Linked DNA regions of Homo sapiens: all the other regions are reported to be linked to region 3. The links are microRNA targets in miRTarBase. Many come from high-throughput screens and were not tested one by one. Region 3 holds a microRNA gene; each other region holds the end of a gene's coding sequence.
Evidence for each region. The annotated mature microRNA hsa-miR-335-5p reads UCAAGAGCAAUAACGAAAAAUGU and lies in region 3 at 2,312-2,334, shown strand. An mRNA with a match to its seed (bases 2 to 7 or 8) in the 3' UTR can be bound and repressed. Matches are read on the target gene's strand: a 7mer-m8 pairs with bases 2 to 8, a 7mer-A1 pairs with bases 2 to 7 and ends in A, and an 8mer does both.

Region 1 (5,304 bases), not on the chromosome of region 3:
GTGCTAAACCATTCATGGGAAATCCACCCCCATGATCCAATAACTGCCCACCAGGCTCCACCTCCAATGCTGGGGATTACAATTAAACATGAGGTTTGGGCAGGCTACACACATCCAAACTATATCTGCTTCTAAGCCCAAGATGCCCACTCCAACATTGCATCAGTCCTGTGCTGTTTCTCAAAGTTGTTTATATAAGCATATTAACTATAATCACACTTTTTTTCTGTTTATCCAGGTTAACCTTGATTTTCACACAAAAGAAGTCATTACAAACAGCATCACTCAACCTACCCTCCACAGTTTTGATGCTGCACAAAGCAGAGTGTATCAGCTCATGGAACAAGACAGTTATACACGTTTTCTGAAATCTGACATCTATTTAGACTTGATGGAAGGAAGACCTCAGAGACCAACAAATCTTAGGAGACGATCACGCTCATTTACCTGCAATGAATTCCAAGATGTACAATCAGATGTTGCCATTTGGTTATAAAGAAAATTGATTTTGCTCATTTTTATGACAAACTTATACATCTGCTTCTAACATATCGCATGTTTATGTTAAGATTTGGTCCCATCCTTTAAACTGAAATATGTCATGTGAAATTATTTTAAAAATGTAAAAACAAAACTTTCTGCTAACAAAATACATACAGTATCTGCCAGTATATTCTGTAAAACCTTCTATTTGATGTCATTCCATTTATAATCAGAAAAAAAACTTATTTCTTAATCAAAAGGCAGTACAAAAAAAGTAATAATGTTTTATAAGATTGTAGAGTTAAGTAAAAGTTAAGCTTTTGCAAAGTTGTCAAAAGTTCAAACAAAAGTCTAGTTGGGATTTTTTACCAAAGCAGCATAATATGTGTTATATAAACATAATAATACTCAGATATCCAAATGTTCAGATAGCATTTTTCATAATGAATGTTCTCTTTTTTTTGGTAATAGTGTAGAAGTGATCTGGTTCTTACAATGGGAGATGAAGAACATTTATTATTGGGTTACTACTAACCCTGTCCCAAGAATAGTAATATCACCTCTAGTTATAAGCCAGCAACAGGAACTTTTGTGAAGACACATTCATCTCTACAGAACTTCAGATTAAATATAATCTAGATTAATGACTGAGAATAAGATCCACATTTGAACTCATTCCTAAGTGAACATGGACGTACCCAGTTATACAAAGTACTTCTGTTGGTCACAGAAACATGACCAGATTTTGCATATCTCCAGGTAGGGAACTAAGTAGACTACCTTATCACCGGCTAAGAAAACTTGCTACTAAACTATTAGGCCATCAATGGCTTGAATAAAAACCAGAGAAGGTTTTTCCCAGGACGTCTCATGTTTGGCCCTTTAGAATTGGGGTAGAAATCAGAAATGAGATGAGGGGAAGAAGCAAGGAGTCTAAGGCCCTAGCGATTTGGGCATCTGCCACATTGGTTCATATTCAGAAAGTGTTATCTCATTGATTATATTCTTGTTAAGCAAATCTCCTTAAGTAATTATTATTCAAATAAGATTATACTCATACATCTATATGTCACTGTTTTAAAGAGATATTTAATTTTTAATGTGTGTTACATGGTCTGTAAATATTTGTATTTAAAAATGCCATGCATTAGGCTTTGGAAATTTAATGTTAGTTGAAATGTAAAATGTGAAAACTTTAGATCATTTGTAGTAATAAATATTTTTAACTTCATTCATACAGTTAAGTTTATCTGACAATAAAAGCTCTGACTGAATGTTGATTATCCTTCCTATTATGTAATAAGGAATAAACATTTTCTTCTTTTAGAGTAATATTGGGATAGAAAGTATTAATTGAGTTATTGTATCATTGATCTTAATGCTATATCAGTTGTTTAAATTGTTGTGAATATAAAAACAAAGTATCTTGGGTTTCAAAAATCAACTAAAAAGGTGATTTTTATGTTTTCCTTAGTTAATTCCTATTTTCTTTTTCTGTGGCAGTCTCTTTCCATAGAATTTAATTGTTTCATATACAGACTTAAGACTCGACACAAACTTTGCAATCTCATCAGAAACATCATGGGCTGATTTTAATAGCATTGTTCTGGTACCACAAATATGTATCATGTAGCTTTTCCGTATGTAATACTGTCCAAAATCATCCAATCTCTTCATTAAATTATGAAATATTCAATGAGATGCTTCAAAAACATACCAGGATTTCTTCATAAAATTAATGACTGACTTCAAAAAGTTTGCACTCTCTGGAGGAGACAACATGGACAAATACAGAAACAAGATAAATAATTGGACAACTGAAAGCAGCCAAGCACAGATGCACAGAAAGCACTGAGTGTTGGCTGAATGATGGCAAAACGCACAAATTGAAACTAGACTTGAAAGCCTCAGTGTGCGAGCCCCCTAACTGGATGTGGGATCCTCAAAAGTTTATATAACTTCTAAGGACTCTTCCATCCACGTTCGTTTTAAGATAAAGACTCAGGATTTCTACTTTCTAGTGTTCTTTATGGTCTCCACACTCATTAATTCTAATTTGTTCACTTGATATTCTCCGAAGCAAACCTTGACTTGTATCCAAGTAAGGAAAAGAGGCAAATAAGTATAATTAATGAAGGAAAACTTAAGATTAAAAATTAATATGGGATTTTTGTCTAAGAATAGGGCACAAGATTATAGAAAACCCAGAAATACATGAAAGGAAAGAAGTCACAGGAAATAGAGCTTGATTTTTTTTTTGACCAGTCAAATGTATGATAACAATGTCTTTAAAGTACTGGATGATAAATAAAGTTGGGTTGAATTAGATAATTTGGGGCACTTTTTGAAGCCCATAAGCAATAGTAAATACCTAGGCTTCAAGTTATGTACATAATAAAAGTTCAATAAGTGATTGCAAAGTCAAGTGAAATCAAAAGGAAGTCAGAGTAGTATTTCAGCAAAGAGTAAAGTCTTTAATATGTGGTGCATTTTTATTTGAATTCTATCTCTACTAGCTACCAAGTGTACTATGTTGAGAAAGCTACCTAAATTCTTATCTTCAATTTTTATTTGTAATATTGGAATAAAATTTTCACAGTGTTCTTATGGTGATTAAATTGTAAATATTTGCAAAGTGCCAGCTACAGTGTTAACTGACTTTAGTGTGTGGATGGATTTTAGAAAGTATTCCCTGTGTTTAAGTACCACATTTTAATTATAATATAAATTTTTCTAATAATGCCTTGGTTACAAATCAAAAAATATCTTTGAGAATAATGAGATTTTGCTTGACTAAAGTATGGGGATGACTATTGCTCTCATCAAAACTTTTATAATTTGCACTTCATAAAAAATGATATTTTAGCTAAATTAAAATATGGGAACATTTTAAGCATAAGCATTTTTCTAAAGAAAAAGCTTTTAAAAAAAAACCCTTAACTTTTTAGTTATGTGCAGTGCAGATCTTCTTTAAGAGGAAAAAAAAGACAAAGCATGGTGAAGATGTATACTCTCCCCGCCCCACCTCATCAGATGCTAAGCCTTAGCTATGGCATTAACTAAATTTAAAAAGACTAATTTATTTTCATTGTGCCACATTGGCTGGTCTTATATTTAATTTCCTGGCTCTTTATCATCTGTCTAAAAAAGAAAAAAATTACCAACACAGATGTAACCACGTTCATTTAGCTATATCATTTGAAGCCTTTTCAACAATAAAAATAAAAATTCGTACAACTTATCAAAACTCATGTTCTATAACTTGAATAAATCAACAAGTATTTATTGAACACTTTCATTTGATTGCTACTGCTAGCTTCTGAGCATTCAAAAGTGAATTTAACAGTGGGAGTGACAGGGAAAGAGAGAGAAAGAAAAACTCTCTTCATAGTATATTGTCTGATAAAGCTTGCATTCTGCAATACGCAGCTGAAAGCCATGTTTTAAACTTTTCTTCGTATGTATCCCAAATAACAAATCCTTCTACGACCAATCGTGCAGATTACCATTTATCTTTTGAAGCTAGGAGTTAAGTAACTAATTTCCTCATTTATTTAAGGACAATACAAAAGATTCACTAACTTGCATATCTTTGTGCATCTTTTATAAAACAAAAGAGGAACTGAAAGTATATGTATATATAAATACATTTTATTATGGGTTTGAATTTTTTGGTCATTTTATTGGTTTTGCTCTATAAATCAACCAATTATAGAAGGGTCCTTTGAAGATGAAAAAACACAAGTTTTAAGAAACATTTACAAAATTAAATCACTTGGGAAACAATACAAATTTAGCAGCACAGGTAGTAAAATATTACATTTGGAAAATTTTTTTAAAAATCAGATTCAGCTGTGTTTTTAGACATAATTATTTAATAGTAAACATATACATTTACCTGGAATCTTACCTACTAAATTTTATAGAGTAGAAATGAACCTTTTAGAAGTAATAAGCAAAGCAACTATTTTAAACGTCAGACATTTGCTAAAACAACAGTATTAAATTTTAAATAGTTTGTCTACAGTCTTATTATTTTTTATTGTGTTATCTATCTGTAAAAAACATAAAATTGTGGGAAAAATGAAGACTGAATCATTGTTAAATGTTGATCCACTAAAAAGTGTCAAAATTCTTTTTATTGGATGCAATTTACTAGAGCAAGAAAGTGAATAAAAAACATTTGGAAAGATTGCCATCAACATGTAAAACCCAACAATCATTTTTTCAACATGGAACTGTTGTTACATGTAAAGAAACTGAAATATTGAAACATGAATCCAAGTGAGATCAAATCAGTATCAATGATAGCAGGAATAAATGTATTTAATAATCCATAGTTTGGAATATCTTATACTTCATTTATCGTTATTTAATCATAGACTCCTGTAGTTCAACAAATGTTTGCCATGCTTCACCTCTGTCCCAGTCACTATATGGAACAGTAGTGATACAAAGACAAATAAAATAATGTAAAGGCTATCACTGTAGTATTTAAATGAACGGTGTTCCTATGTAGGCAAACACAAAAATCAGTCATTTCACTATGACATGTGAAACATTGATATATAATATATCTTGACTTCCTTGTGTCTAAAAAATGGCAAGACAATTTCATGCAACGTAGCTAAACAGCAGAGTCATGTTGCTGTGCCTTCACAATATGTCTGAGTATATTTTATAATATAGGATTAGGTATTAAATTGCTATATTCATACTGAAATCTGCTTTAAAATCTCAATCTCTAGAAACCGGAATTGATCTCATAAATGAGCATCACTCACATTAGAATGCAAGCTCCCAGAAATGTATTCAAGTTAC
Region 2 (5,304 bases), not on the chromosome of region 3:
GGCCCCTCTCATCAATGTCACAGAGCCCCCAAGGGTTTACGTCAGCTCCTTCTGGCCACAAGAGTATAAGCCGGACACCCATCAGGAACTGTTCCTCCAAGAAGAGATCTCCCTCCTAGAAGACCTGAATCAGGTGATCGAGAACAGACTGGAGAACAAGATTGCCTTCATCCGCCAGCACGCCATCCGGGTCCGCATCCACGCCCTCCTGGTTGACCGCTACCTGCAGACTTACAAGGACAAAATGACCTTCTTCAGTGATGGAGAACTGGTCTTTAAGGACATTGTGGAAGATCCCGATAAATTCTACATCTTCAAGACCATCCTGGCAAAGACCAATGTCAGCAAATTTGACCTTCCCAACCGCGAGGCCTATAAGGACTTCTTCGGCATCAATCCCATTTCCAGTTTCAAACTGCTCTCCCAGCAGTGCTCCTACATGGGAGGTTGCTTTCTGGAGAAGATTGAGCGGGCCATCACTCAGGAGCTTCCGGGCCTCCTGGGTAGCCTCGGGCTCGGGAAGAATCCAGGTGCTCTCAACTGTGACAAAACAGGGTGTAGCGAAACACCAAAAAATCGCTACAGGAAGCACTAGGTGGTGGAGCGGTCCTTGGGTTCCTGTTGGTGAATCAGCTTGTGTCCTAACTGTCTGAGAGGTCCTGGTTTATTAACCCTTTGAGCCACACTGGCAGGAATTATTACACAGTGGAGAGTTGGGAGTTCATTGAGGCCAGGGGTCGGGGCAGGTGTGTGGGTCTAGGGAGGAGAGTGGAAACTGTGAATTCCTGTGTGCTTGTCTTGTTGCTTCAATGAGGAGGCCTGATTGAGGCAAGTCAGCCTCCACCTGCTTTTCCTGGGTCCTGTCTTGGAAGGACAGAGAGCAGCTAAATTCTAGTGTATCTTAAATCAGTGAGGGTCAAATAAGCTAAAAGCAGCTGAAATTCCTTTGTTCCCTGTGAGCTGGGAAAACAGCGAAGGCCTGAGTCGTAGAGATTGTCAGGTCCATTTTGGCTTCTTTCCACACCCACAGTCTCGCGTTTGTTCCCCAGCCCTCGGCTGCCTCTTAACTTTGGGTTGACTTTCAACAGTGAATAGTCTCTTGGGTCTGAATATACCTGGGTTTGTTTTTGTGTTTTTGAGACGGAGTCTCGCTCTGTCGGCCAGGTTGGAGTGCAGTGGTGCAATCTCAGCTCACTGCAACCTCCCCCTCCTGGGTTCAAGCGATTCTCCTGCCTCAGCCTCCTGAGTAGCTGAGATTATAGGCCTACCACCATGCCCAGCCAATTTTTGTATTTTTAGTAGAAACGGGACTTCACCATGTTGCCCAGGCTGGCCTCGAACTCCTGACCTCAAGTGATCCACCCGCCTCGGCCTCCCAAAGTGCTGGGATTACAGGCATGAGCTGCCGCACCCGGCCTCCACCTGGGTTTTGAGCCAATCCCCCGGACTTGCTCCTGGTTTCCTCAAGGGGTGGGGCAGTGGTTTAGGACACTCGACAACTAAGAACAGGAGTTCCCAGGAAGGACAAGGATCTGCCTCCCCCACTGCCACTTCTCTGATGTGTTCCTCAAAGCTGGCTCGAGGGCTCGATCCCTTCATCGGACCCAGGAGGGGACTGGTTGGTGTATCCAGGTAATTTACTCTTGGAAGTGACTGTAGTGAAGGTCGTGGAAGGGCTCAGAGGGTTAATTGGTTTGCAGTGCGTCTTTGTCTATTGCATGTCTTGGAAAACTCAGATCCCAAAGGCGCTGGGTTTCAGAGAGGACAGTGGAGACCTTGCTCCTTTTCCTTAGGCCGCCAGTCTCTCAAATTTCAGAGGAGGCTGTTTCCACAACTCCCCTGTGGAAACACTTGGCAGCGGAGTTGCTCCTTTGCAGTTTCCACACCATGGCTTTTCCTTTCCTTTCTTCTCCATTCCCTGATGCATCAACACTTACTTGGAGCAATTTCCTAGGAGTCAGAACCAGCACCAGCCACTCGGTGTCGGTGGCCACCAAGGCTTAACATTGACCTTCCCGCCTGACCTTGATGCAGATGTCCACTGAACACACCGCAGGAAAGCCAGGGCCTTCAATACCAATAAGTGTGAATATGTGTGTATGTTGTCCAAGAGAGATTAGGGAGATCACATAGACTCTAGGGAGTAGAGAACTTGTAACAGTCTTGCAAGGCTAGCATGCACGGCTCCACAGCAGGTGGTGGGGAGCAGAGGGGCAGGACCTGCAGGGAAGAAGCAGCCTTTGGATGGTGAAATGTGCATGGTGCACAGTCTGTGCATGCCCAGGAGACCCAGCCCGGGCTGCCTCGAGGGGCTCCTTTGTACACAGCCAGCCGCTTCTCTTGGGAACAAGCTGTCCTGGGGGCCTTACCCACGAGGCAGGAGTCAGGATGCACCAGCTCAGCACCAGGAAGTCATCCTGGACCCAGGACAGTGGAAAGGCAGGCAGAGGGAGAGGCACTCTGAGGTCAGGCAGGGTAAGCCAGTTGGCAGTCAGGTTAGGTCTATGAGGAGAACCTCGAGTTAGGAATTCCCGGTTCTCAGAATTGTTATCACTCTGGTGCATGCTGTCACAGGGGCCGTTGCGTTTGGCTTTGTGGAGGGCCTGGACCCTTCCACAAGAACACCCGAGGTTCCAGGGCACTCAGGACAATGTTTCCAAGGAACGAGTCGACCAGGAAAGAACAGTGAGTTCTGCAAGGGGCATCCACGGAGCCTGTGATAGGGGCTGATGAGATGGAATCTGTCCTGGACTTTTCTTCTCATTAACCACCCTCCGCAAACCCCAGAACCCCTCGCCTCATCTCTGTACTGTCTGCCCTCTTGGGGGATGGGCCCTCCCACTTTCCCCTGCCTGCTCCTCCATGCTGTGAGCTGCTTTGGCAGATCTGTTTTTCTGTGTAGTCAGGGGAAAAACAAAAAAAGATGCACAACTGTGTGGGCATTGTCATAGCTGTTGGTGTCACCACTGCTTTGGGGGAAATGGCTGGGATGAGGCTAATACATTCATGCAATATTTATATTTTCAGGGGGCTGCGTTATCAGCATGCTCTCCCTGCCTTGGGCTTTTCTTTCCGTCATGTTTTCCTTTTCGTGTTCCTTCTCTGATTTCTCTTGTCTCTGCTGCTCACAGGCCTGCCCATCAGTCAGTACAGATACTCAGTGTCTGGTTTCTGGCCAGCTCCGTGGAGGGGGCTTTAAGCAGAATTCTGACTCTTTGGGGTGGGGGATTAGGAACTGGGGGAAACTTAATGATCCAGAGATTCCCCCAAGAGGAGTGTCTGGAAGGATCTGTGCCTGGACAGTGGCAGAACCTTTCCAGTGTTCTTTTGGTTCTGATTTCATCAGTCTCAATAAAGTTCCGATCTCTCTTTAACACCGCGTGCTTTCTCATGGTCTCCAGCTAGGTTACTCTCTTCATCCTCCTTTTATCTGGTAGAGTTAACTCATGTGTAAGTTCCTTGGGGAGAGACTGGAAATTAAGAAATTGCCCACCCTTGTGTTAGCTGGATGCCCCAGGACCTTTTTTGGGACTGAGGCTGAGTTGCTCTCTCAGCCGCCCAGGAAGGCGTGGTGTCCTCTGAAACTTAAAGAACTGCTCTCTCCTCAGCACCTCAATGCCTCATTCCCCTGGGCATCCACGCAGCTGCCTTAGATAACTGAGGGCTCCAGTGGAGGAGGGCACAAAGGTTTCCTGAATGGTAAGGCTGCCACCTCCCCTTGGCTTCACCAGAAAGTGTTCTCCTCCTCCACGAAGTGTGGACGTGAGCCTCCCGCTTGGACCTGTCTTTAGAGAAACCTGAACGCGTCCTTGACTCCCTGAGCCCTTTCTATCACATTTTCCTGTTTCTAGTATCCTCTTCAGAGCAGAGGTCGTTTAATTTTTATGTTTTACTTCTGGGGTCTTCGAAGGAGTTTCACATCTTGCTTGAGAACAGGTTTTTTGTTGTTTTCTTTTCTTTTTCTTTTTTTTTTTTTTTGAGACGGAGTCTCGCTCTGTCGCCCAGGCTGGAGTGCAGTGGCGCAATCTCGGCTCACTACAAGCTCCGCCCCCTAGGTTCACGCCACTCTCCTGCCTTAGCCTTTCGAGTAGCTGGGACTACAGGCGCCCGCCACCACGCCCGGCTAATTTTTTGTATTTTTAGTAGAGACGGGGTTTCACTGCGTTAGCCAGGATGGTCTCGATCTCCTGACCTCGTGATCTGCCCATCTTGGCCTCCCAAAGTGCTGGGATTACAGGCATGAGTCACTGCACCCGGCTGGTTTTCTGTTGTTTTCGATTTTTTTTTTTTTTTTTTTCTGAGATGGAGTCTCGCATTGTTGCCCAGGCTAGAGTGCAGTGGCGCCATCTCAGCTCACTGCAACCTCCGCCTCCCGGGTTCAAGCGATTCTCCTGCCTCAGCCTCCTGAGTAGCTGGGACTACAGGCACATAACACCATGCTTGGCTCATTTTTGTATTTTTGGTAGAGATAGGGTTTCACCATGTTGGCCAGGCTGATCTTGTACTCCTCACCTCAAGTGATCCGCCTGCCTCGGCCTCCCAAAGTGCTGGGATTACAGGCTTGAGCCACCACATCTACCCATTTTTTTTTTTTGAGACGGAGTCTCGCTCTGGCACCCAGGCTGGAGTGTAGTAGCGCGATCATAGTTCATTGCAGCCTTAACCTCCTGGGCTCAAGCAATCCTCCTGCTTCAGCCTTCTGAGTAGCTGGGACTACAAGCACATGCCACCATGTCTGACTAATTGAAAAAAACATTTTTTTTTTTTTGTAGGGATGAGGTTTCATTATGTTGCCCAGGCTGGTCTCAAACTCCTGGCCTTATTCCATCCTCCTGCCTCAGCCTCCCAAAGTGTTGGGATTAGAGATGTGAGCCATCTTGCAGGTAGACAGCGGGTTTTGAAAGGGAAAAAACTGGGCCCTGGGGAGAAAGGGAGAGTCTGCAGTCCTTGGTCTTTGAGCAACTGAGCAACATGACCCAACTAAGGCCACTCCTGTTCACCCACCCAACCCTGCGTCCCTCTTCCACCCTTTCCCGGGAGAAATCCAGAGCTCTTGCCTGGAAGAAGGAGGACTGTTTTAAAGATAAATGTTAAGTAATATGCCAGAATCTGCCTCAAAATTGTACTGTTTCACAAGCCTCACCATCTTCACATTGTCTGCCATTAAGATGATAGAGAAACAGAAACAGAAAACGGAGAAAGCACAATCCGGGACCAGGATAAACATAGATAAAGTGAGGGGCATGAATGGAGTATTTTTAAGGGTAAGTGGATGTATCATCTGAATCCATGGGGGTTACACAT
Region 3 (5,304 bases):
AGGACAGATAGGGCTGGGCAAATGATCGTCAAAACCTAATGGTTTTTGTCATCTGACCTTTCAAGGAGATACTGGGATACAGCCTGCTATTGTTGGGTGAAAACTGTGATATAACCATCATGTTCTGGCACTTTTTTGAACCATTTCTAGTATTACCTTGAGAAGTAGGACCAAATGGTTCTATCCGTCTTATGGACAGGTACTTTGGAGAAAAAAAGAAATGACTGCCCTAATAATGCCTAAAAAATAGCCTGGGGAGCTGACATTGTTTAAGAAACATGGTTATTTTACCACTGTAAAACCACAGGCTTGTTTTTAGATTTTAGCAAAAAGTATCAGGGATATGGGGGGGAAAAGTATCTTGTAAGTTGAGGAAGTTAGCGAACGGGTAGGTAGATTACAGGCAATAGGGAAGAATGTGTGTACAGACGGAAAGCCATTTCCCCCAGGGCTTTAGCAATTAATTTATTTCAGCTCTATGACAACTCTAATTTTAGTTTTGGAGGGTATTATTTCCATTCTGGCTGTTTTGAGAGAACTTCCATTCTACTGACAATTCTTGATCTGTTGACCATCAGAAGTCATAGACTTGAAACAGAACGGTTTATAATTCCTGTTTGGCACTCCTTGTCAATGTGGATAAACTGACTTGTGCCTTTGAAGTCCTGGGCATGGGAGGGTTGGGTGTACCAACCAGTGCTCTTTTTCCAAAGACAAAATCAATTCTCACACGCTGGGTATGAGTTATGCCTTATCTGGGGGTGGGGGAGCATCTTAGGAAATTAAATGGAAACTTAAAGAGTCTGCTAAGAAAAGCAGAAATGTAATCTACCGCCTTGACCTCTCAAGAGATTAGATATTCAGGGTCATGACAAAGCTGCTTATGTTGGAATACACAGTGCAGCTATCTTACTTTCACAGACTGTTTACCCTGAGCAGTTTCTCAGCCCAAATCCAGAAAGGAGTACTAAATGGGGCTTCATTTAGGCAGGAGGGCTGAAAATCAGGAGTAGCTCTCTGCTTGAGGACATGTGATAAGTTACTACACACACACACTCTTTAAAACATGAGATATAGCACATATATATTTTTTGAACATTTTACTGGTTGGGGGTAGTGGGTAGATGGTAGAGCTTTTGGAGTAAATAAGAAAGAAGTTATTTTTTTCCTGGGAAGCCTTGATAAAAGTCAACGAAAGAGTGTCCAGCATTTAAGTCATGTCCCTTTTATTTATATAAAGTCCTCTTCAGCAGGTATTGGGAAGACCACAAGGGTAGGGGCTAAGGGGTTAAAGTCGGGGAGCAGAGGCAGAAGATTATATGTTGAAATAATGTATTTTTTTTCCTTAAGATTAGAATGATGAACAAATATGGTGAGTGCTATGGCAGACAGAGGTTTGATTATAGTCTCGGTCAGCTTTGTGCCTATGTGAAGGGCAATGTAATCATTGCATGGTAACAGCAATCTCCCACCCCATCTTACCAGGTTTTGGTTTGTAGATGAGTGGACAATGTTACCTGACTGCTTACAGTGGGTCTCTGCTTTTCCTACAGGATGAGGGAGTGGTGGGTCCAGGTGGGGCTGCTGGCCGTGCCCCTGCTTGCTGCGTACCTGCACATCCCACCCCCTCAGCTCTCCCCTGCCCTTCACTCATGGAAGTCTTCAGGCAAGTTTTTCACTTACAAGGGACTGCGTATCTTCTACCAAGGTAAGAAGTGGACTATTGGAAGTCCTGCGTGTATCGGTCACATAAGTCCCAGCTGAGGTATTTATTTTGTGGCTATTGGTCTCTTGTTGCTCCTTAATGATGGAGGAGAGTATCTCTCTCTCTTTCTGTGTAGTGTGCTTGCAGAGAAGCGCAGAAAACTGCTGGGAGAATGGGGGTAGGGACTGAGATTCCAACCTGCAGACCTTACCTTTTAGTATAAGTTTTCTTTGTAGCTTGATATGTATTCCAATATTAGTTTTTTTTTTTTTTTGAGCAACCTGTCAGGTAATATATAAAATATTAATAGATATAACCACCATTGGTTCTCTCTCCTTACCATCCCTGATTTCATTTTTTCTGTAGATTATTTGTAGTGTAACTGTGATTTAAGTCTTGATACCATTATATAAATTAATTTGCTAGTGATGATGATTATTATGACCACTACTTATCAAGTAATTACCATATGCCAGGCACTGAGTTATGTTTTCAGCCTTCATTGTTTAATCTTTACAACAGCATTTGGAGATAGGTGCCATTAACCTCATTTTATAGGTGAAGAAACTGAGAAACAGATTGGAAATGATTTGTTTTGAGCGGGGGTCAAGAGCAATAACGAAAAATGTTTGTCATAAACCGTTTTTCATTATTGCTCCTGACCTCCTCTCATTTGCTATATTCAATTAAGTAAGTATACAATTTTTATTATGTTGGCTTGGGTTACTTCCAGTTTTACTGTTTTAGAAAACTAATGTTGAAGTAAAAGCTTCATGTCCATACAGTTTATTTTTTCCTTACATTTTCAAACTATACTACTTGTATAAATGGAATGATTTTATTTGCACAGATTCTCAAGAACAAAACTCTTAGGCTAAAGTATATACAATTTTTAACTGCTTCTAAATTATTTTTGAAAACCTTATTACCAAATTTTCATGTCACTGGCAGTATATGAATATACCTGTTCTAATCCCATACTATTAGCAAGGTTAATATTGTCTAAATGTTTACCTAATTTAGATGATGCTGAATGCTTCCATATTGTCATATGCATTAAAAAAGTTCATGTTTATGTTGATTAAGCCCTTTTTATAGTTGACAGGATTTTGTAATAGTTTTATTATGTTTTTGATGTTAGATTGGGTCTCCTGCTGAATAAAAAGTGCTGAGCAAACAGCATAAGCTAAAGGTGTTCCTTGGGAATAGTTGCTGTATCTTAGAGAATTTCTGTGAGGCCATTCATGATAAAGTACAAAGAATTTGTAGTTTATGTGTTGTGATCATATGCTTTTAACTGAAAATTTACTTTTCACTGAAAAAATTTGCATATTACAGAACAAAAGGAGAAATGGGGAGATGCTGTTTAAAAACACCTAGGTGAAAGTAAACAAGGTGCCTTCAAGTATTTTCACATAGCATGATTTTTACAATGTTTTAATATACAGATTGAAAGGAGAAAAGGCCTGTTCTCACCTAACGCAGTTAAGCTTACATTTTACAAATAATTGTGTCATTTTAATGTCAATTTGGTCACAGTTGCTTGTTCTTTGTATCAGATTACTTAGATTTTAACATCTTCGAGGTTATTTTTATAGGGATTTGGCATAATTGATTGTACTTTCCTTCTTCCTAGACTCTGTGGGTGTGGTTGGAAGTCCAGAGATAGTTGTGCTTTTACACGGTTTTCCAACATCCAGCTACGACTGGTACAAGGTAATGAAGTCAGACTTCTACGTCCTACTATGTCTTAAAAAATCTCGGCCGGGCGCGGGGGCTCAAATCCTAGCACTTTGGGAGGCTGAGGTGGGAGGATGACCTGAGGTCAGGAGTTTGAGACCAGCCAGGCCAACATGGCAAAACCCCATCTCTACTAAAAGTATAAAAATTGGCCAGGCATGGTGGCACAAGCCTGTAATCCCAGCTACTTGGGAGGCTGAGGCAGGAGAATCGCTTGAACCCGGGAGGCAGAGGTTGCAGTGAGCTGAGATTGCACCACTGCACTTCAGCCTAGGTGACAGAGCGAGAGTCTGTCTCAAAAAAAAATTTTTTTTTAATAAAAATTTAAAAAACCTCAAGGATTTTGTTGTCAGCACCAGAAGGCTCTTGCACATTTGAATTGCTTTTAAAAAAACATTAAATGTTGAACTGTTCCTTATTTACTGAAGGGAATAAACAACTCCTTGGCACTCTGGAAGGGATCACTGCCAAGTTACCCTCCCTCAACAGGGATTAATTACCAGGAATAAAGCATTTTCCAAGAGGATCATCTGTGGGACCTGTGGTAGTTTCATGGCGTTTTCTCTTTATGGAAGTCTGTTAAGCCAAGATAGGGCTGAAGCTCCTGTGCAACTGTAGGTCTGGTGAAAGGGAGGGGCAGGAGCAGAAAGCCCAAATCATCGTTTCTTTCTTGTAGATTTGGGAAGGTCTGACCTTGAGGTTTCATCGGGTGATTGCCCTTGATTTCTTAGGCTTTGGCTTCAGTGACAAACCGGTAAGCAGCACCTATGTGGGGCTGGTGATGGGGTGTGGGGGCAGACGCAGACTATGAGGGTCAGGCTGGCAGAGAGAGCTGTCCTCATGACTTCATCCTGTGTATGTGGGCTTTCCTTTCCTCAGAGACCACATCACTATTCCATATTTGAGCAGGCCAGCATCGTGGAAGCGCTTTTGCGGCATCTGGGGCTCCAGAACCGCAGGATCAACCTTCTTTCTCATGACTATGGAGATATTGTTGCTCAGGAGCTTCTCTACAGGTCAGTGGAGCTTCAGACTTCAGCTTATGATGCTAGGAAAGTACATTGTTTCTGGACTGTTTGTATCCTTTTTCTCTCGTTTTCAGCGGTGCACTGGTTTAAGTTTGCTCAGCTACATGTGTGTTTCCTCGTCTCCCTTCTAGGTACAAGCAGAATCGATCTGGTCGGCTTACCATAAAGAGTCTCTGTCTGTCAAATGGAGGTAATTGCCTTGGCGGTAGGTAGAAAGTGGGTGTAATCTAGAAGGGCCATCTTTAGATACAGCGGCACCTAAATGGTAATCTGATAATATTTCAAGTAGACATAATTAAACTATGGGATCTCTACCTCTTCTGTGCCATCAACTCCTTTGGTGGTCTGACAAGATTTATGGACCCTTTCTCAGAATGTTTTAAAATAAAGAAACAAACAGCATTACAAAGGATAGTGACTTTACTTACATAGTCAATAAAAAGCTGCATTATAGTCACATGTGCTTTTTCAATGCATTAGATAGCAAGTTCTAGTGGAGGACCTAGTAACAGCTATATCAGAAGGAGTGAGGAGTGTAAAGACTGTTTGCCATATCTGAAACAACTGCAATAGGTTATGAGAGTGTAGGATTGAAGATACAGAAAAAAGCCACAAGTGTTTCTAATACTACTATGATGTTAGTGTAGAAAATCCTTACTTAATGTCATCAATGGGTTCTTGGAAACTGTGACTTTAAATGAAACGTTATAATGGAACCAATTTTTTTTCTCATCAATGTTTTAAAGAAAGGATGTTATTCAAGGACCTGCTGTACCTCATTCTGCTTAAAGCCGAAGTTTCCAAGAACCTATCCTGATGTTAAGTGAGGAC
Region 4 (5,304 bases), not on the chromosome of region 3:
GTCATTGCAATTATGCTGAGTAAAAAAAGTCAGAATAAAAGAGGACATACTATAGTCTTTAAAAATGCAAATTAACACACAGTGACAGAAAGTAGATCAGTGGTTGCCCGGGACCAAAATGGAGCACGCTACGGAGGAGGGATTATAAAGGGCAGGAGGCATTTCACCGGTGTTTGAATATGTGCAGTTTATTATATGTTAATACCTCAATAAAGCTACTTAAAAAAAAAAAGCTCAGTGTGGCCTCTTATGACCCTGACCAGAGCCCTCCATGGCTTATCCAAAGTCTACAGGATCAAGGCCTTTCATGACCTGGTCCCATCTGTCTTTCCAGCCTTGCATTTAAGCACCATCCTACACAAATCCTTCGCTTTAGCCAAACTGTATGTCTTGCTACCCTCCAAGTATTCTTCATGCTTTTTCCACCTCTGCAGCTTTGTTTATATAGTCATAGAATGCCCTCTCCTAGGTTACCACCCTCACTTTACCTGTTAAAAGTTTACCTACCCTAGGCCGGGCGCAGTGGCTCGCGCCTGTAATCCCAGCACTTTGGGAGGCCGAGGTGGGCGGATCACTAGGTCAGGAGATCGAGACCATCCTGGCTAACACGGTGAAACCCCGTCTCTACTAAAAATACAAAAAATTAGCCGGGCATGGTGGCGGGCGCCTGTAGTCCCAGCTGTTCAGGAGGCTGAGGCAGGAGAATGGCGTGAACCCGGGAGGCGGAGCTTGCAGTGAGCCAAGATTGTGCCACTGCACTCCAGCCTGGGCGACAAAGCAAGACTCCATCTCAGAAAAAAAATAAATAAATAAAACAAAAGTAAAAATAAATAAATAAATAAACTTTACCTATCCTTGAAGACTTAGACTTAAATATAATCTCCACAAAACCTTATTTGAGTTATTGAGTCAGAAATGTTCTCTTTCTTAAACTCTAGTAATACTTTTTCTGCAGCATCTCCCACACTGTCCTGTGCTTCCGTGTGTGTGTGTGTGTTGTGTGTGTGTTTGTGTGTTTGTGTGTGTGTGTAAGTAAATCTTCTAGTTAGACTGTTAGCTTCTTGAGGGTGTGGACTGTGCATTTTATTCATCCTTGAATTCCCCATGGCAAGTAGCACAACTTTTTTTTTCCCCTTTGGAAAAAGGGGCTTCATACATTAAAGAAAACATAAAGTCAAACATTAACTAAATAGCCCAAATGAACATCTTGGCCTCCCATCCTTCCCTTAAAATCTTTTAGATCCATCAATCATCACCTCCCTCAGTCTTCGGTCTTGTCCTGTACACCCCCTCCCCCCAACTCACGCTTCTTTTTCTCTTCCTTCTTCCTCTTGTTCAGGCTAGATCACACTTACTTAACTCTTTTCTTAAGCCAGTTCCTGTTCCTCATCCTTTTGTTTAAGAGGACATACATGTGTTTGCTTTTTGGTATTATTGTATGTTCTGTTGAAATAGTAAATATTATCTACTATCCAGTCAATTTCAAGTGATGGCTACCTTAGATCTTAATATTTAATCCCCCCCCTCTTTCCCCTCAATTTCTCCAGCATAGAGCACAGTGATTAAAATCTCAGGCCCAGGAACCACCAGGCTGGATCTGAATACCAACTCTGCCACTTACTAGCTGCGTGACCTCAGGCAAGTTACTGAACCTTCGGTTCTGCCATCTGAAACTGGAGATGCTAATGGTGACTACGTCCTATGATTACTTGATGAGCTAGTACGCGTACACCACGTACCTTGTTTAGAACAGTGCCTGGCCTAGAGTGACCACTCAATAGTTGTTATTTGTTTCACTGCAAATGGAAACATTTGGCAAAGAACTGTTGAGACAAATAGAGCTGGAAAGGACAACCGAGTAAACAGTGCTTGGTTAACCACATCAGAATCACTCGGAGATTGCTCCAAAAATGCAGATTACTGAGCCCCACCTGTGAGATTCTGGTGGAACCCAGGAACCTGGCTTTTTGCAAATGCTCCTCCTACTTGGATCGACAGCCAGACTACCGGCACAGAAGAAAATGCCCCAAATTTGGAGTAAGGAAATCCAGGACTCTGGTAGTATTTCTGCCAGTGACCCAGTGTGTGACTTCTGAGACTACACTTTCTCATTTGTAAAATGCAGATAACAAATTTGATTTATTCATAGAGTAGTTGTGGGGGTCACATTACTAAAGTCATTTCTGTCGGGGAAGCTGGCTTAGTGGGGTGAAAGGAATGCAGGCTTTGCAATAAGCTGGACCCGGCTGTGAGTTCCATCGTGGAGGCCGCTGCAGATGTCGTTAGTTGCCAATTCTATATCCAGCCCCCTCTTCCTAACGCAACCCTGATTTTGCTTGGTGTGTAACTGTGCCTAGTTGAAAATACTTCCTCCCAGACTTCCTTGCAGCTGGGTGGCCATGTGACACGGTTCTCTCTGCTGAGGAGTTTCTGGGAAGGCTTATCTTTCCTTTTTCTTGTTTGTTTGTTTGTTTGTTTGTTTGGAAACAGGGTCTTGCTCTGTAACCCAGGCTGGAGTGCATTGGCACAAACAACTCACTGCAGTCTTAAACTCCTGGGCTCAAGCTATCCTCCCACCTCAGCCTCATGAGTAGCTGAGACTACAGATGCACACCCCATACCTGGCTAATTATTATTTTTTTTTAAGAGACAAGGTCTCACCATGTTTCCCAGGCTGGTCTCCAACTCCTGGGCTCAAGCAATCCTCCTGCCTCGGCCTCCCAAAGTGCTGGGATTATAGGCGTGAGCCACCCACCGTGCAGCCTATTTTCTTGATACAGACACTTGTTCCTGTTTCTCCCTTTGCCCTATTGTCTTCCCCTTTTCTTACTGCCTGGAACATGGATGAAAGGCTTGGCAGAGCAGCAGCCATCTTGTTCCTATGAGGGTACAAATCTGGGAGGGTAGCTTACAGGCTGAGTATGACAGTGTGAGGAGATGAAAAGATTCTAGATCCCTAGTGGCATCATCCAGCAGTGGCAGCATCTCTGGGCTGCCCACCCCTAAATGTTTTATATATATATGAGACAAATCTCTATTGTTTAGGGTGGAGGTAATTTTTTTGTTGATTATTTGTACCTTAAACTTCTTAGGGAGAATTAAAAAACAAATAAAGGGCCAGGTGCAGTGGCTCACGCCTATAATCCCAGCACTTTGGGAGGCTGAGGCGGGCAGATCACGAGGTCAGGAAATCGAGACCATCCTGGTCGACATGGTGAAACCTCATCTTTACTAAAAACACACACACACAAAAAATAGCTGGGTGTGGTGGTGCACGCCTGTAATCCCAGCTACTTGGCAGGCTGAGGCAGGAGAATCGCTTGAACCAGGGACTTGGAGGTTGCAGTGAGCCGAGATGGCGCCACTGCACTCCAGCCTGGCGACAGAGTGAGACTCTGTCTCAAAACAAAACAAAACAAAACAAAAAAACAAACAACAACAACAACAAATAAAGATCCTAGAACCATGTCTGACCCAGTGGACATTCATATATCTGCTTCCCCTTCTCCAGCTGTGAGACGTTTTCTGCATTTGTGCAGTGAGGCTTCTTCTAAATTCAATATCCTATGTTTAACTAATGATAAGGTCGAAGAATTGGGCCCTGGGACTGGCCTCTGAAATAAATGGCCCTTTATTCCAGGCCCTTCCCCTGGGGGAGTTTGGGAAGGCAGAAGCACTAGTTTGTCACTCCCAAAACCCCACCAAGTGCCTGGGCACAGGTACAGCATGGAGAACCTATAGCACCCTGACCTATGGAGATGTCTGCACCCCAATAAAACAGATGTTAAAATCTCCATGTGCTTTGTGAGGCAGAGCATGCAAAATGTGAGTTCAAAAGACATGAAATTGCCCCTGCTCTGATGTAAATATAGATGATGATTCTAAGTGGGACACACATGTGTGAGAAGGTAAGAATGAAACCTATTAACCTCCCACTTCCCCCCCAACACACATACATTTCCCATTATTTTCTCCTGTTGGAAGTACTTGGGTGTGAGTGTGGGCACCTGTATACCAGTGGGAACAGAAAGGAGTTTGTTTTCATTACCATCCTTTTTTTGAGATGGAGTCTTGCTCTGTCACCAGGCTGGAGTGCAGTGGCATGATCTCAGCTCACTGCAACCTCCACCTCCAGGGTTCAAGTGATTCTCTTTCCTCAACCTCCTGAGTAGCTGGGACTACAGGTGCGCGCCACCACGCCCAGCTAATTTTTGTGTCTTTAGTAGAGACGGGGTTTCACCATGTTGGCCAGGATGGTCTCGATCTTTTGACCTCATGATCCACCCGCCTCGTCCTCCCAAAGTGCTGGGATTACAGGCATGACCCACCACGCCCGGTCCTCCATTACCATTCTTACCTGCCCACAGCATGGCTTTCACAGAAGCAGGCTAATGCCTTTATGACCCCTGGGAATGCCATGATTCATCCAAGTCAGCTGCCCTCTCTGCCAACTGAATCCTGCAGGTCCCCATGGTCTTCCTGGCACTGACAGTTTGATTTGATCGCTTCAGCCATTGCTGAATTCAACAGCACCTGAGTCAGGACTTTTGCAAACCTTAAACGTAAACATATAGTGACTATAGAGGGAACTTTTTAAAAAGCAAATGTATTCTTCCTCCATTATCTAAAAAAGATTGGCAAAAAGTTAAATCTCCTTTTACTTCAAAAGTAAAGAAAATCATGCAATGAGATGATCCTGTTGGGCCTTCAGCACAGACCCATCCTCTCTTCCCCGGCTCCCAGCAGTCCAGGGCAGGTTTCTGTCCTCAGCAGGCTGAGTTTTGTTCAGTCCATTCGTTCCTTGCTGGATCAGCACACTCTGGATTTCTCAGCCCTTTCAGTCTGAGTGTTCCTCCCTCATGGCCTTCACAAGCCAGTCCTGTTCTGTCCCCTGCTCAGAGTCACTGGTGTCACTCACCTCCATGGACAGCAGCTTCGAGTACTTGATTTTCCGCTCTCGGGGCAGCCTCCGCTGTATGGACAGGAGCAAGGCCAACCAGAGCAACAGGGCCACACAGCAGGCCTGGTAGAGCACAGCCAGGCTGAAGCGCATCACCACGAAGCCCCCGACAAAGCTGCCCAGGCTACAGCCACTCCCGTAAAAGTGGCCTCGGAACAAGGCACTCAGAGCCCTCTCCATGCGGGGAGTGGCCAGGTCCTCTACTGAGGCCCCCACAGCCCACCACAAAGCTCTGTTGCTAATGGCACTCAAGATCTGAATGGGGAGGACGGACCACCAGCTCCAGAGGAAAGAGTAGTACAGCAGCTGCCCAGCGAGGCAGCTCAGCCCCAGCCCCACCAGGC
Region 5 (5,304 bases), not on the chromosome of region 3:
TGAGTGATCTTAGACTGAATGTTTTTGTTATAAAAGACATTATTGGGACAGCTGGTGACACTTGAATTGGATCTGAGGATTACATGGTAGAAACACATCAGCGTTAACTTCCTGATTTTGATGGTTGTATTGTGGCTATGTGGGAGAATGTCCTTATTTGTAGGAATTACACACGAAAATATTCAAGAGTGATAAAGCATTGTGTCAGCAACACCCTCTAATAGCTCTTTGTTCTCTTCTTGTAACTTTTTTCGTAAGTTTGACATTCTATCAAAAGAAAAGAAAACAACAGCAGGGCTATTTACTGCACAGTATCTCCTTTCATTAAGGAAAAACACTTTTCTAAGACCCTCCTAAGGCGGAAGCCCCACTGGCTGGTAATAGAGGCGCATGGCCTTTCTCCAGCTGCAGACCAGGTTGGCAAAGCCAATTTACATAAAGGGGAGTGGGCTCTTCTCTCAGTCCAGTCGTTTCTCTCCATCCTCCCTTTGTCTCCATCCCCAAAGTCATATCTCACTTTGAACATTTTCTGCTCAGACTGACAAGTCTCCCTGACAGGAACTCACCCTCTCCACCCACTGCTTCCTTGCCACTAGGAAGAAGGAAGTGGGGTGTGGTGGCAATGTGTAGGCTGCCAGCAGTGTCTACCTCAGTCTGAAATTTTTATATTTGACCTTGGCCATTTTGGAACACAGTGCCATCAGCAAAGACGAACCATCCCAGAACCCCAGGTTGTTTGTTCTTTCATTTAGTTGCCAGGATTTGTACTAAGAGTTGGGGAAATAAAGATAATACGATTATTCTTTAGAAGTTCATAGGGGAAGGCTTTCATGAATAAATAATTATAGCACAATAAAGGCCTTGGAAGAATTACTGTAAGCCTGGGATATTATGAACTTACAGATAAAGGGCACCTAAAACACCCCAAGGGAAGGGTGAGGGAGGAAAGTCTTCCTAGAGAGTGGGAGGGGTGGGGATGGCAGCCCCTCTTCCTGCTGACATGGGAGATAGAATCAGGCAAGAGTTAACATGGATCTTTCCAATTCTGGTACAGAATCCCACTCAGCTATTGCAGCCCCCCAGCAGAGGCAGCAATTAAACACAGTGTGGGGAATTGCAGGCAAAAAGCACAGCGTGAGTGATGGTACAGAGGTGAGGAAAGCAGGGGCACACACTGTGACTGTAAACTGCCCATTTGGCTTCTGAAAGGATAACAGGAAGGAAGGAGGGTTGGGGCAGGAAAAATAAGAAACTCGACTGCAAGGTAAAACAGTTTCAATTTTTTTCTGTGTGTGCAACAGGGAGCCCCTGATTGTTCTTGAAGAGGAGAGTGCAAGATGAGGGTGTGTTTCTGAGCAATTCATCTGGAAGTGGTGGGTGGAGAGGGTGAGTTCCCGTCGGGGAGACTTGTCAGTCTGAGCAGAAAATGTTCAAGGTGAGATATGACTTTGGGGATGGAGTGAAAGCGAGGATGGAGAGAAAGGACTGGACTGAGTGACCCATCAGATATGAAGGCAAGTGGCAGAGATGATTCAGGTGCTCCAAATGCAAGGGTGGGTGTCATTAATAGACATGAGAAAGGCAGGGGCAGGTGCTGGGTGGTGCCCCATGGGGACTGTTGTGGGAGATAATGCCCATCCATGATGGTGTGACCCAGTGGACCAAGTCAATCATGCATTGTGCTGGGGTTTCAACAGAGAAGAGATGACGTATCTCATGATCTCCCTGTCCAGCCATCACCACCCCCTCCTTAAAGCTGTTTGAAGGCTCCCCCTTGCTCCTAGAACAGAGACCAGTCTTTTGAATTGCCCCAGAACTGGAGCAGGCTGGCCATGCCTGCCTCTCATGCCCCAGGCCCACCCTCCTCACCATGCTCTGTGCTCCTGCCACACCAGTTTTCTTTCAGTTCCATCCATGGGCCATGTTCACCACTGTATCTCCAACACCAGCAAATAGGTGTTGAATAAACTGGTGGGGCTTCCACCACAGGGCCTTTGCACATGCATTCATGTATCCATCTTTAACCATTGTCCTTCCTCTCTTTGCCAACTTAGAGGCAACCTATCCTTTTTTTTTTTTTTTGGAAACAGGGTCTCACTCTGTCACCCAGGCTGGAGTGCTGTGGCATGATCACAGCTCACTGCAGCCTTGACTTACTGGGCTCAGGTTATCCTCTAGAGTAACTGATACTACAGGTGTGCCACCATGCCAGATAGTTTTTGTATTTTTTGTAGGGGTGGAGTTTTGCCATGTTGCCCAGGCCGGTCTCGAACTCCTAGGCTCAAGTGATCCACCCGCTTTGGCCTCCCAAAGTGCTGAGAATACAGGCCTGAGCCACTATGCCTGGCAAGGCTACTCATCCTTTACAGCCCAGTTCAAGCATCACTTTCCCAGGGGCACCTCTCTCGATATTCCTAAGTCCAGTTTACATGCATTATAGTAACACAAATCTTCCTTTTATAGCATGCACAGTAGTGTAATTTTGCATTGACTTGTGAGAATATTTGCTTGAGGCCCATCTCCCCCACAGACCGTAACATCTATGGGCGTAGGGGTCACTGTTCTTTTTGTGCACCCCGCATCCCCTATATTCAGCATGGGAATTGGAACTTTGCCGTGCTCACTGAAATACTTGTGGAATGGATGAATGAATGATGAATTGGTGAATATTTCACTGGTGCTTCAGGAAAGTGCCAGAGAAGCAGGTTATGCTTGAGAAGCACCTTATAGGATGAATAGAATTTCAACAGCCAGAGTTGGTCTTCAGGTAGCCAGTCTTCAACTAGCAAAAGCAAAGGGAAGGGCTTGATCAGAGGGAGCTTCTGCATGCTTAGGAAGAAATAGGGAACTAGAAATCTAGGGAAATAAAGGGCTCCAAGGCCAGAAAGACATAAGCCAAGTTTTGGAAGGATTCAAATGTCCATGAGGACTTGGTTGTTAACTTGGCAGGCAATGAAGAGCCATGGAGATTGAGTGAAGGAAATGACACACTTGAAACTTATCTTTGAGAAGATGAACATGACGAGGAAACTGAGGGTGACTAGAGAAAGGAGCTGGGAGCAGAAAACCACTGCCTTGGGAGGATATAGCAATGGCTTTGGTGAAACTTATAAAGCACATGAATGGGGGTTTTCTAGGTACGAGATGGTCAGAGTGAAATTTGGATGGTGAGGTTAAAGAAAACTGGCAGCAGATGAGGAAGTTCAAGAAAGAAAACCACTGGCGACCAGACCGTAAGCTCCTAGGACTTGTGTCTTTTTCATCCTTATACTCCCAGTAGAAAAATATGTTTTTCTTAGAAACTGTGGGAAAGAAATTAATTTAAGAGCTGAAAATGTTCAGAGAGACCATAAAATGGAGATACAATTTGGCCCAAAGACCTATTCTACGTGACTCATTCAATGTTTAGTTGGCAACATTAAAAATTGAGATTTCTCATAAAAGTGGCATTGTTAAATTTTAGATTAATTTTTATTGAAAAAATTTTGTTTCTGATTGTTTTGGCATTTGAAAAAGTGCTGTATTTTTAAAGATCTGCCCACATTAGTCACCACATCCCATGTGGCACCCATTGGTGGAGCTTAGGTGGCCCCTGTTCAGTGGTTTCCCAGTACTGGTCTTATTCCCAGAGGGGTTCATTCGCTATTTTCCTGGGCTCTGAGGGCAGCTGAGTCAGGTCCCTGGCTAAAGAGAAGCTCATCAGTTCCCAGCAGGCCACTTTTCAGTGTACCATAAAACATGATACCTTTGTTACATTAGTGATCTGGGAGTATCTGGAATAGGCAGGTGGGGCGGGGGTTCTGTCCCAAAGCCTACACTCCCAGTGGAAGTCTGATGAGATACATTGATAGAGAGGCTCATTAGTATTTTACTATATTTTCTGCCAGCACTGGGTGTTGCAAAATCACTGCCATGGTGTAAATAATTAGATAAGGGTGTATGTGGAATTCACAAAACTTTTATTGATCTGTTTATCATGCCAAAAAAAGTTGTTTATTTAAAATTCAAATTCCACTTGAAAAAGAGGCAACAAGCGATAGTTGGGATCCCAGCCTGCTCCTGGAGGAGCTCCTGTGTCCACAAAAAAGCACGCACATTCTACAGCTATGCGATTTGCTCACTCGGAATTGCATTCTGGAAAACTCCTCCCAGAGTCCCCTTGCAGAACGCCATTTGTGTCTTTAGTTGGTTGTAGCTGGGAAACAACAACAGAAAGAAAAGGAACTCCATCCTAAGACTTCTTAGAATATTTTTGGTTTTGAAACTACTGACCCTCAAGGATCTACCACCACCCAACCTAGAATATATATCTATATATATCTCATATATATATTCTCACTGAAAAGCAAATCATTGTTTATTTCACTTGCTTGCTGTCACATCGGACCCTTAGGATGGTCTCGGCACACCTGGCTCTCCTTCTCGGTGGGATCCTGTGGATTCTGGCTGTGGGTGGGCAGCCCTTCAGGAGCGTTTGGACTTGCTGCAAGTTGGGCACAGAAGCTGACCCTTGGTGACGATGTACGCCCGGCCGCTCAGCAGCTGCTCACAACCCTCACAGACAAAGTGCTTTCGGTGCCAGGCCAGATCTTCCACACGCTGGTAGTCCTCAGCGAATATTATCTGGGGAGGGGAGCAGGAGAAATGCATGACTCAGTTTCTGTCCCTAGGTAGAGACGGTATATCTAGGACAAGTTATAGGGTGGTGGTTCATCCCATCCTATTCTTGTTTTGACCTTTTAAAGCCTTAGTGGAAAAATCTGGCATAAATTTGAGGCAGTAAGGATAATATTTGGTGAAGGTTGTGGTTGCATCTTAGCTTCTCAGACGGAATAAAAAAAATCCTCCACTACAGGCAGGTTTTACTTATCTAGGTATCTGTGATACTCTTTGGGTCAAATCTAAAGTTTAGTTCCAAGGTGGGATTACACACCCTGGTGAAGAAAGCTTAAGGATAGATAAACTGCCAATGGCCAATCATCAAGAGCAAGAATACAGAGGGTCACTTGGGCTTGGAATGAAGTGACACTTGGAATAGACATATTGTAAGGATCCCCTGAGGCTCAGGAAGTGCAGAGGAGCATAATGTTTAATGGGCCTTCTAGTATTGGAGTCAAACAAGAACTGGGTATGAGTTTTCACTTAAGACATCTACCAGCTTTGTGACTTTGGGCAAATTACTTAATCCCCCTGTGCCTCAGCTTCCACATCTGTAAAATGGGGATATAAATACTTTCCATCCCACAAGGTTCTATGATTGCCAAATGACCAACTACATATGAAAGGCTTAGAATGTTGACTGAC
Region 6 (5,304 bases), not on the chromosome of region 3:
TGTGTTGACTTAAGTTTCCATTTCTTGTGGATGAACGCTCAGCAGTATGACTGCTGGGTAGATGGTAAGTGTGTGTTTAGTTTTTAAATAAATGGCCAAACTATTTTCCAGAGTGGGTGCACCATTTCACATTCTTACAGCAATATATGAGAGATCTAGTTTCTCAATTCCTCTCCAGAATTTGGCATTGTCACTCCTTCCTTTTCTTTCTCTTTCTTTCCTCTCTTTTCTTTTCTTTCTTTCTTTCTCTTTCTTTCTTTCCTTCCTTCCTTCCTTCCTTCCTTTCTTTCTCTCTTTCTTTTTCTTCCTTTCTTCCTTTTTCTTTCTCTCTGTCTCTGAGACAGGGTCATGCTCTATCATCTAGGGAGGAGGAGTGCAGTGGCGTGACCTCAGCAAACTGTCCACCTCCCTGGGTCAAGCCATCCTCTTGTCTCAGCCTCCCAAATAGCTGTGACTATGTACAGGCACACACTACCATGCCCAGTTAATTTTTGTATTTTTTGTAGAGACGGGGTTTCACTATGTTGCCCAGGCTGGTCTCAAACTCCTGAGCTCAAGTAATCCACTCGCCTTGGCCTCCCAAAGTGCTGGCACTATAGGTGTGGGCCACTGCACCTGGCCCTCAGTTAAAATTTGATTTTCGTGTGCTTCTTCTTCCTCTTTAGGGAGATTTAGCAAACTGACACAATGGGGACTGGCTACCTAAGGACAAAGATAAGGAATTAGCTAGAGTAGCGCTTAAACTGCAGGAGAGTGGTATAAATAAAAAAAAAATGATTGAGGTGAGTCTTAATTATTTTAGTTTCTTTTGCTAAGGTTTAGGACATGCCCAGGAAAAAGAAACACAAAACCACAGGAACATCTGTGATCTGTGCTTTTTCCAAAGAGGATTTGGGAACTTCAATTTTTTTTTTTTTTTTTTTTTTTTGAGAGAAAGTTTCACTTTTGTTGCCAGGCTGGAGTGCAGTGGCATGATCTCGGCTCACTGCAACCTCTGCCTCCCAGGTTCAAGCAGTTCTCCTGCCTCAGCCTCCCGAGTAGCTGGGATTACAGGCATCCGCCACCATGCCTAGCTAATTTTTTATATTTTTAGTAGAGACGGGGTTTCACCATGTTGGCCAGGCTGGTCTTGAACTCCGACCTCAGGTGATCCACCTGCCTCGACCTCCCAAAGTGCTGGGATTACAAGCATGAGCCACCACACCCGGCCTGGGGACTTCAATATTTAAAGTGGGGAAAGGAGTGGGCAATAGGAGAAAGAGGAAAGAAAAAAAGGAGGAGAGTAAATAAAAAGGGAAAGTGGTTGCATTCTTTTGAGGCTTTGATCAGCTTTCAGTGAATCTACATTTTACATGTGAAAGGAGAGGGTAGAGGAATAGTCAACTATGCAATCATCTTGCCCTCAGTGAATTTGCATTTTTTTTTTTGAGACGGAGTTTTGCTCTTGTCACCCAGGCTGGAGTGCGATGGCCGGATCTCAGCTCACTGCAATCTCTGCCTTCTGGGTTCAAGTGATTCTCCACCTCAGCCTCCTGAATAGCTGGGATTACAGGCATCTGCCACCACACCTGGTAAATTTTTGTATTTTTAGTAGAGATGGGGTTTTACCATGTTGGCCAGGCTGGTCTCAAACTCCTGAGCTCGTGATCTGCCCGCCTTGGCCTCCCAAAGTGTTGGGATTACAGGGGTGAGCCACCGTGTCTGGCCAGATTTGCATTTTTACATAAAATAAACTAAACATCTAGTAGAGGAAAGAGTGAAATAGGCATTTGTCTCAGGTGAGCAGAGGGATGACTTCTGGTCCTGTCTTGTCCAGTACCTGTGAAGATAAACTGTTAATTACATTGCCAGGGTGAAACTCAAGCAGAACTGTTTTAGGGTAAAGATCTTGGGGCCCACAAGGAATTTCCTTGTGGCCAAATTGTGAGCAAGGCCTGCTGGGGAGGTGTGTAGACTTCTAAATCTTTGCAGCTACATATTTAGGAACAAAATAAGGGGCAGTTTGGTGTGACTCCATTCCCAAGCCTGACTTTTCCCTTTAGCATAGTGAGTTTGGTATCCCAAGATTTTTTTTTTCCCTTTCTCAGTGGGTAGAACCAGAGAACTTTCTAGAAAGAACTTGGTTGGAATATATATACTATGGCCAAACTCCCCAGTCTTTTGAGAGGGGAACAAGTGTTTGTAATAAAAGTCTCTCCTTCCACCTCTGGTGCCGTTTACTGTGTGTCAGATAAGTCTTAGTAAAGCTGTTTTTTTTTTTTTTTTTAGAAGAAAATATCTGTCTCCCTTTTACCCTCCCCACCTTTTACTTTGCTCTATACACCTCTGATATCATTTGAGTCTTTTACAATAAGATAGAGCTTATGTATTTTTGAGTAATAATAAGCATGAGAATTTTCCAAAAATCTTTGCCGCCCAAGTAGTCACAGGTCCCCATTCACCATACTGTAATGAATCCTTCCTCCCTCCCTCCCAAGTCCACTGAAGAGTCATTAAGTCAGCCCCAGGGAAGGGAAGGAATGATGTAGAGCAGGCAAGGGATAGACAGGACACAGAGAAATGGGGCCCACTGTAATGAGAGAATTTGCCTTTTGTTTTGATAGAGGATCTCACTCTGTCATCCAGTCTGAAGTACAGAGGCATGATCATGGCTCACTGCAGCCTCAACCTCCTGAGCTCAAGTGCAGACAAAAAATAAAATTATAAGCCACTCCCCGCCCCCAACCATCTGAAGGGTCCCCTCCTCTCAGCCAGGGCTTTCCAAAGTTAACCTGAAAAACTGGTTCAGGCCATGCTGTGGGAAGGGAGAGTCGGCCATGCCTCAATATACCCGCCTCCCTTTTGGATTTTGGGAAAAGCTGACCAGCATGAACATCAACACAGACCTTAAGTCTGATAAACATTTACAATGTATTCTCTCTGAAGCCTGCGACATGGTGGCTTCATTTGTGTAATAAAACTTTGGTTTCCACAATCCCTTATCATCGTAACCCAGACATTCCTTTCTACTGATTCCAGGTCTTTAGATAATAACTCTTTTAACCAATGGCCAATCAGAAAATTTTTGAATCTACCTATAACCTGGAAGTTTCCTCCACTTGGAGTTGTCCTGCCTTTCTGGACTGAAACAATGTACATCTTACATGTATTTGATTGCCTCATGTCTTCCTAAACGGTATAAAACTAGGCTGTGCCCCGACCACCTTAGGCACGTTTTCAGGGTCTCCTGAGGGCTGTGTCACACACCACGGTCACTCACATTTGGTTCAGAATAAATCTTTTCAAATATTTTACAGAGTTTGACTCTTTTTGTGGACATAAGTGATCATCCCACTTCAGCCTCCCAAGTAGCTGGGACTACAGGCGAGCGCCACCATGCCAGGCTAATTTTTGGATTATTTTTTTTTGTAGAGATGTAGTCTCATTAGGTTGCCCAGGCTGGTCTCAAACTCCTTGGCTCATGCAATCCTCCCACCTCTGCCTCTCAAAGTGCTGGGATTACAGGTATAAGCCACTACAGCAGGCCCATAACTGGAGAATTTGGAGTCTGATTTTTCTCATTTGGCCATACTTCCTAGGGAAATTTTAGAACCCCAAAACAGCAGCCTTAAGATTGGGCTGGGAGTGTTCTGGAGGAGGCTAATGCTAGTTACTTCTGCTAGCAAGGAGAGCTAGCATATTAGAGTGAAAGGAAAATCAGACTTTACGTCAAAATATGTAAGTTCTTGCCTTGGCTCTGGCCATAGCTAAATGTAAGAAACTCACTGAAATTTTCCAGATCTCAGATTCTCTTTCTGGAGAATGTGTGGTTTGGAGAAGATGAATTTTAAAGGCTCTTTCAGCACTAAAATTCCACTTCTAGTGTTGAAACATACACAAATCACAGCAGAAATGTTTATTAGTAACGCCTACTGCATACAAAAATTATAGCAGAAATTGTATTAAAAATGTCAAATACGTTCATAGTATCTCTGTATTCTCCCTCAAATTCCCATCTACTCCTCAGCTTGTTGAACCTCAACAGTAAGAAGGCTCCCAGTCAAAAAAGATGTCCTCAGACCCAGGCCCAGAAGTGCCTTCTTAGGAAAAGTGAATAAATGATGGCAGCAGCAATGGCAGCAGTAGCTGTAACCCCCAAACAGGAATGGGAAGACAGGTGGCCCCATTTTCAGTCTTTCGAGGTTGAGTGAGCAGCTGATGTGGGCACGCTTCCCTCACAAACATGGGTCCTACTGCTAAGATTCCAGACATCAGCCTGCAGCCAATCATGGCTGTACAGCCTTTGACCTCCACAGACGACTCAATGCCACCTATAGAACAAGGAAGGATCGGGAGAGACAGAGATGTTTTAGGACATCAGAGGAGAATCCAGTCCCCCCTCATCCCTGGAGAGCTCAGTGTCAGAATCTCTGGGGAGCCACTCAAATGGTTTTCCAGCCTCTGAAACTATCAGATGTTCATTTCAGTTTACCTCCAGTGATCTCAAGTTTTCCTTGATAGCATCGAGTTGTACCATTGGGACAGGGAAGAGAAGGAGCACTGAAACAGGTCCCCAAAGCCACACAGGTTGGACAATGGAGGGTTGTTGACACAGTGGAAGCTGGAGGGAAATGAGAGAGACAGTTAAGGGCAGGTCCTGCCTCCAGAGATGTTGCTCCTTGCTGCCTTCTCTTCCCCAAGATTTTCCTGCAGATGCCACTCTAATCAAGGCCCATTACTTCAGCCTCCCCATCCTTCCCCAGCTGGTGTTCTCTGCTGTGAAATCTCCATCGATCTGACTTCCAAACTCTGCTGAGGTGTGAAGATACAGAGATGAAAAGGACATAGTTCCTGTCACCTGGCATCTCTGCCTAGGAGAAAGACATGTAAGTAATCAATTCAGTAGCTGCTGTGTTCAAGGTATAATGACAAAGGAATGGAGGAATACCCAACTACCTAAAAGAATTTGGCAAATATTTTCAAAGAGCTGATACCTGAATTGACATGGAGGATGAACAGGGGTTAGCTATGTGAAAATGGGGTGGGGAGGGTAGTAAAGGAAACAGCAAGGACAAAGGTCAGGTGGTGTGAGCCAGCTTGGTGGATTCAGGGAATTGTGAGAAGTTGCACGACTCATATTCAGCTTGTAGGCCCAGCTGTTTCTTTGATCTGTTTTTTTTGTTTTTGTTTTTGTTTTTTATGGCCAGAATCCATTTTGATTGGCCAGTGCCATCTACATTGTTAAGCATTTTGAGTATTAGCCCCAGTTAGCACACAGTAAATGAGAGAGGGAAGAGAGGGAAATGAAGCTGAAAAGACAGGAAG

Region 1: miRTarBase lists RGS18 as a target of hsa-miR-335-5p. The part of its 3' UTR that is shown has no 7-base or 8-base seed match.
Region 2: miRTarBase lists SRL as a target of hsa-miR-335-5p. The part of its 3' UTR that is shown has no 7-base or 8-base seed match.
Region 4: the mRNA of MFSD6L is a reported target of hsa-miR-335-5p. The part of its 3' UTR that is shown has no 7-base or 8-base seed match.
Region 5: miRTarBase lists LMCD1 as a target of hsa-miR-335-5p. Seed matches in the 3' UTR shown: 7mer-A1 at 183-189.
Region 6: miRTarBase lists TEX101 as a target of hsa-miR-335-5p. The part of its 3' UTR that is shown has no 7-base or 8-base seed match.

Annotation. Positions count from the first base shown.
Region 1 is chr1:192,184,059-192,189,362 of GRCh38, forward strand. It overlaps RGS18 (regulator of G protein signaling 18), which reads left to right. Exons shown (of 5, transcript NM_130782.3): 5 at 239-1,757. The coding sequence ends at 496. Among named protein-coding and RNA genes, the nearest start is that of RGS18, 28 kb to the left of the region's middle.
Region 2 is chr16:4,187,444-4,192,747 of GRCh38, reverse strand. SRL (sarcalumenin) reads left to right here. Exons shown (of 6, transcript NM_001098814.2): 6 at 1-3,374. The coding sequence ends at 595. Among named protein-coding and RNA genes, the nearest start is that of SRL, 52 kb to the left of the region's middle.
Region 3 is chr7:130,493,815-130,499,118 of GRCh38, forward strand. It overlaps MIR335 (microRNA 335), which reads left to right and starts at 2,297; the gene lies at 2,297-2,390. MEST (mesoderm specific transcript) reads left to right here. Exons shown (of 12, transcript NM_002402.4): 2 at 1,554-1,708; 3 at 3,342-3,421; 4 at 4,122-4,199; 5 at 4,325-4,461; 6 at 4,605-4,663.
Region 4 is chr17:8,792,523-8,797,826 of GRCh38, forward strand. It overlaps MFSD6L (major facilitator superfamily domain containing 6 like), which reads right to left. Exons shown (of 1, transcript NM_152599.4): 1 at 4,588-5,304. The coding sequence ends at 4,838. Among named protein-coding and RNA genes, the nearest start is that of MFSD6L, 4.2 kb to the right of the region's middle.
Region 5 is chr3:8,566,759-8,572,062 of GRCh38, reverse strand. LMCD1 (LIM and cysteine rich domains 1) reads right to left here. Exons shown (of 6, transcript NM_014583.4): 6 at 1-4,623. The coding sequence ends at 4,465. It overlaps LINC00312 (long intergenic non-protein coding RNA 312), which reads right to left and starts at 281. Exons shown (of 1, transcript NR_024065.3): 1 at 1-281.
Region 6 is chr19:43,417,174-43,422,477 of GRCh38, reverse strand. It overlaps TEX101 (testis expressed 101), which reads right to left. Exons shown (of 6, transcript NM_001130011.3): 5 at 4,472-4,600; 6 at 3,881-4,310. The coding sequence ends at 4,081. Among named protein-coding and RNA genes, the nearest start is that of TEX101, 4.9 kb to the right of the region's middle.